Linked DNA regions of Homo sapiens: region 2 is linked to region 1. A link means that fine-mapping ties the variant in region 1 to the expression of a gene that starts in the linked region. Tissue or cell type: whole blood. Region 1 holds a variant in brackets; the other region holds the start of a gene. All regions are shown on one strand. Distances are from middle to middle.

Region 1 (2,753 bases):
ACTGTATAGAGGTGGGAAGGCCAAACTGAGGAATTATGTCTGACAGAAGGGAAGAAATGACCATGATGGCCTTCTCAGACCCTGTGGGAAAGGCCTCTACCCATCCAGTGAAAGTGTCTACCTAGACCAAGAGGTATTTTAGTTTCCTGACTCGGGACATGTGAGTAAAGTCAATTTGCCAGTCCTGGGCAGGGGCAAATCCCCAAGCTGGATGTGTAGGGAAGGGAGGGGGCCTGAACAATCCCTGAGGAGTAGTAGAATAGCAGATGGAACACTGAGAAGTGATTTCCTTGAGGATAGATTTCCATGATGGAAAGGAAATGAGAGGTTCTAAGAGTCGGGCTAGCGGCTTGTAACCTACATGGAAGAGGTTATGAAATGATGACAGAATAGAATGGGCCTGTGAGGCTGGAAGGAGATATTTTTCTTGGTCCAAGAACCATTTGCCTTGTGTGGGAAGATATTGATAGGTGGAAGTTTCAGCAGGAGAGTAGGTGGGAGTGACCCATGAGGAGGAGAAAAACTGTCTGTGAGGGACAGAAGTTGGAATGCTAGCTCTTTCTTTAGCTACCTTATCAGCATAAGCGTTGCCCTGAACGATGGGATCTGATGCCTTTTGGTGGCCCTTGCAGTGTATGACTCCAGTTTCCTTTGGAAGTAAAGCGGCCTTGAGAAGAGTTTTTATTAAAGAGGCAATAATGATGGAGGACCCTTGCGTAGTGAGGAAACCTCTTTCAGCCCATTTAACACCATGGTGGTGCAGGATATGGAAGGCATATTTAGAGTCAGTATAAATATTGATGCGTAGTGCGTAGTTCCTTTGCAAGAGTGAGGGCTCGAGTTAAGGCAATGAGTTCAGCTTGCTGAGAGGTAGTGGAGGTGGGCAGAGTGGTAGCCTCAATGATAGATGTGGAAGATACTATAGCATAGCCTGCCTTTGCTGGTGTGTGGCGATTAGGCCTAGTGGAACTGCCATCAATATACCAGGTGTGATCAGGGTGAGGAACAGGAAAGAAGGAAATGTGGGGAAATAGAGTGAATGTCAGGTGTATCATAGAGATACAGTCATGGGGGTCACGTGTGGTATCAGGAATAATGTGGGAGGCTGGATTGAAGTCCGGGCCAGGAACAATGGTAACTGTGGGAGACTCAACAAAGAGTGAGTACAGCTGAAGGAGCCGGGGAGCAGACAGTATATGTGTCAGGTGTGAGGAAGAAAATAGATTTTGGAAGTTATAAGAACTGTAGAGAGTGAGTTGAGCATAGTTTGTGATTTTGAGGGCCTCCAAAAGTATTAGGGCAGCAGCG[G/A]CCACCGCATGGAGACATGATAGCCAGCCTAAAACAGTAAGGTCAAGTTGTTTGGACAAAAAGCCTATAGGGTGCGGTCCCAGTCCTTGTGTACGAATTCCAACTGCACAGCCCTACACTTCGGCTGCGTGTAATGAAAAGGGTTGAGATGAGCCAGGGAGAGCTAGTGTGGGAGCAGTCTCTAAAACTGTCTTCAAGGAACAGAAAGAGGAGTGGGGAAAGGATTGAGAATCTATGGAGTCAGCTAGGTTTCCTTTTGTGAGTTTATACAATGGTTTTGTTAGGATGGCAAAACCAGGTATCCAAAGACAAAAGTATCCAACCACGCCCAGGAAGTAAAGGAGTTGTTGTTTTGTAGAAGGGCCTGGGGTTTGAGAGATCAGTCGGACACGATCCGCAGGGAGAGCGCATGTGTTGTTATGAAGAATTATGCTGAGGTAGGTAATGGATGGAGAAGAAATTTGAGCTTTGGACAGGGATACCCAATATCCCTTGGAGAATAAATGTTGAAGGAGCAGGAGGGTGTCTTGTTGAGAAGATTCAAAGGAGGGGCTACAAAGTAGAAGGTCATCAATATATTGAATAAGGCAAGAAGCAGAGGGGTGGAAAGAAAGTAAATCATAAGAAAGAGCTTGGCTGAAGTAATGAGGGCTGGCCCTGAAGCCTTGCGGCAGTACAGCCCAGGTAAGCTGCTGGGACTGATGGGTGTCAGGATCGGTCCAGGTAAAAGCAAAGAGAGGCTGGGACAAGGGGTGTAGGAGAATAGTGAAAAAAAGCATTTTAAAGATCAAGAATGGAATAGTGAGTTGTGGAGGAAGATATTGAGGACAAAAGAGCGTACGGGTTGGGCACCACAGGGTGGATAGGCAAAACAATTTGGTTGATAAGGCACAGATCCTGAACTAACCTGTAAGACTTGTCCGGTTTTTGAACAGGTAAAATGGGAGAATTGTAAGGAGAGTTTATAGGTTTTAGAAGCCCATGCTGTAGCAGGCAAGTGATAACAGGATTTAATCCCCTTAAAGCCTGTTGTGGGATGTGATACTGGCATTGAGTGGGGTAAGCGTGATTAGGTTTTAATGGGATAGTAATGGGCATGTGATTGGTTGCCAGGGAGGGAGTGGAGGTGTCCCATATTTGTGGGTTAAGGTCGGGGGATATGAGAGGAAGACCCAAAGGAGGCTTTGGGTTGGGAAGAAGGGGGCAATGAGATGTGGCTGTAGTACAGGAATAATCAGGGAAGCAGATAATTTGGTTAAAATGTCTCAGCCTAATAAGGAAGCTGGGCAGGTGGGGATAACTGAAAAAGAGTGCATAAAAGAACGTTGTCCAAGTTGGCACCAGAGTGGGGGAGTTTTAAGGGGTTTTGAAGCTTGGCCATCAATACCCACAACAGTTATGGGGGCGAGGGAAACAGGCCCTTGAAAAGAAGATAATGTGGAGTG
Region 2 (2,753 bases), 22 kb after region 1:
TGGGAAGCCGAGGTGGGTGGATCATGTGAGGTCAGGTGTTCGAGACCAGCCTGGCCAACATGGTGAAACCCCGTCTCTACTACAAATCCAAAACTTAGCAGGGCACGGTGCCACGCGCCTGTAATCCCAGCTACTCGGGACGCTGAGGCCGAGAACTGCTTAAAATCCAGGAGGTGGAGGTTGCAGTGAGCCGAGATTTCGCCACTGCACTCCAGCCTGGGCGACAGAGCAAGAGTCCATCTCAAAAAAACAAAAACAAAAACAAAAAAACAAAAAACAAAAATTAGCCAGGCGTGGTTGTGGGCGCCTATAATCCCAGCTACTCGGGAGGCTGAGACAGGAAAATCGCTTGAAACGCTGGGGGTGCGGGGGAGCGGTGGGGAGGAGGCGGGCCAGAGGGGCAGAGGTTGCAGTGAGCCCAGATCGCGCCACTTCACTGCAGCCTCCGCGAAAGAGCGAAACTCCGTCTCAGTAAATAAATAAATAAATAAATAAATAAATAAATAAATAAATAAATAACCTGTACCCGCGTGTTATTTCCCTCCGTCCTTACCTCCTCCCGGCTCCTTCCCTTTCACCTGAGATAACCACTCTTCTCGTATCTATGCTCATCTTTCCCTTGCTTTACATTTTTTCCACCGATGCATGTGTCTAAACATACATACTTTTGGTTTTGCTTTTACACATTCTAAAAGTTGCACCATTGTATGCAGTTTTCCGCAACTTAGTTTTTTTCACTCAACATTGTTTCTGAGACATTGTTTCTGTTGTTGTCTGGCTGAAGTTCATTCCGTTTCACTGCTGTCTAACGTTTCATGGTGTGAATATTCCGGTTTATTTGCCCACTCGCCCGTGGAGGGGCATTTGAGGGTGTTTCCAATGTTCCTGTTATTCGGAATAGCGCTGGTGTGAACATTCTGCACAGGTCTCTGGCTGCGCCTGGGCGGGTTTCTTAAAGGTGAATGCCCAGGAGGGGACTGTCTGTGTTCTCCCTCCCTCCGAGCTCCAGCCTTCCTCGCCTCCTTTCACTCCCAGCTCCCTGGAGTCTCTCACGTAGAATGTCCTCTCCACCCCCACCCACCCCTGATGAACTCCTGCAGGTTCTGCAGGCCACGGCTGGCCCCCCTCGAAAGTTCCTTAACTATACAATTATGGTGTGTGTTTCTGCGACGAGCGTCCGTCTATCCGGTGGAAGGCACGCCGCTCGAGGCTTGCGATGCTCCCGGGGTCCCCGCTTCTAGCTTGGGCCTGGCGCACAGCAGCGCCCAGACTGCAGGGGGACGCTTGAAAGTTGCTGGAGGAGCCGGGGGGAAGGCAGCGCCCAGCGAGGCGGCTGGAGCGCGCGCCCACAGGTGGGTCCGGTCGGGCGCCGCGGGGCCGTAGTTTTCGGGTCGGCGGGCGAGGACGCCGGGTCCAGAATTCCAGGAAATGCGCGATCCAGGCCGGCGGGCGGGGCGGGGGCTCCGGCGAGAGGGCGGGCCCCGGGAACGGCGGCGGGCGGGGCGGGAGGCGGGGCCCGGCCCGTTAAGAAGAGCGTGGCCGGCCGCGGCCACCGCTGGCCCCAGGGAAAGCCGAGCGGCCACCGAGCCGGCAGAGACCCACCGAGCGGCGGCGGAGGGAGCAGCGCCGGGGCGCACGAGGGCACCATGGCCCAGACGCCCGCCTTCGACAAGCCCAAAGTGAGCGCGCGCGGGGGCTCCGGGGACGGGGGTCCGGCGCCTGGGCGGCCCGAGGGGCTTAGCGGGGCCCAGCCCGGGGCGTCCAAACCCTGGGAACGAACGGGGGCTCCTGCAGGCGAGTTCTTCCTTCGGCTTAGGCCGTGGCTTGCTTGCGGGCTAATCAGGGACAATGGGGCAGAGAAGGTCCAGAACCCGGAGGCCTCCAGAGTCTGCTTCTGCCCCTGACTTGACCCCTCTGGGTCTCAGTTTCGCTGTCTGTCAAGTGGGCATCCTAGCACCGCTGAGCGCTGTGTGGGCCTGGGCAGGGACTTGAGGTCTCTGAAGCTCAGCTGTATGATCAGGCCCGATGTCTACGCCGGATAGGCACCTAGTGCTGTGCCCGGCGCCTACTGAGTGCTCAGTGAATGGAAGCAGCTTTGTACGCCAGCGTTATGGTGGTGAGCGCCAAGGAGCTCAGGTTTGTGGATGCGCCCCGGGGAAGAACCGTGAGCCCTGCCAGAAAGGGGAGGGAGGGGAGCAGAGCACCCCCCTTCCCCCGCGCGGGAAGAACAGGAGCTAGGTAGGCCCTGGGTTTGGGGCCCTAGCAGGGTTCACTCGAGGCCAAGCCATGGCCACTGGCCCCAGGGGAGAATCCCCTTGTTTCTCCGCCCACCAGCTGTGGCGTCTTGGGACTGTTGGGGTCAGGGAGGGTCTGGACCCCCTTGGCCTGTCGCAGAGTCCGAGAGGAGGGGCCCAGGAGTCTGCCAAGCAGGGTGAGTCAGCCAGTAGGGTGTGAGAGTGGTTGGGGAAGGAGTCAGCTGCAGTCAGCCTCAACTTACCCTTCTAAGAAATAGGTGTGAGTGGCCCAGGAGGTTGGCTCACGCCTGTAATCCCAGCACTTTGTGAGGCTGAGGCGGGAGGATCATTTGAGTCCAGGAGTTTGAGACTAGCCTGGACAACAAAACTAGACCCCGTCTCTCCAAAAAATAAAAAAAGTTAGGGGAAGTGTGTGTGGTGGTGCACTCCCGTAGTCCCAGCTACTCAGGAGGCTGAGGCGGGAGGATCGCTTGAGCCCAGGAGGTTGAGGCTGCAGTG

Evidence for each region. PIP is the estimated chance that this variant, and not a neighbour inherited with it, causes the effect.
Region 2: ADA starts here. The variant in region 1 is fine-mapped to the expression of ADA in whole blood (INTERVAL, PIP above 0.99).

What each region holds. Positions count from the first base shown.
Region 1 is chr20:44,672,946-44,675,698 of GRCh38, reverse strand. No RefSeq gene overlaps it. Among named protein-coding and RNA genes, the nearest start is that of LINC01260, 2.6 kb to the right of the region's middle. The variant G/A (reference allele first, on the strand shown) is at 1,309.
Region 2 is chr20:44,650,501-44,653,253 of GRCh38, reverse strand. ADA (adenosine deaminase) reads left to right here and starts at 1,555. Exons shown (of 12, transcript NM_000022.4): 1 at 1,555-1,679. The coding sequence starts at 1,647. RefSeq lists a silencer at 1,357-1,746 and enhancers at 783-1,766, 1,997-2,106.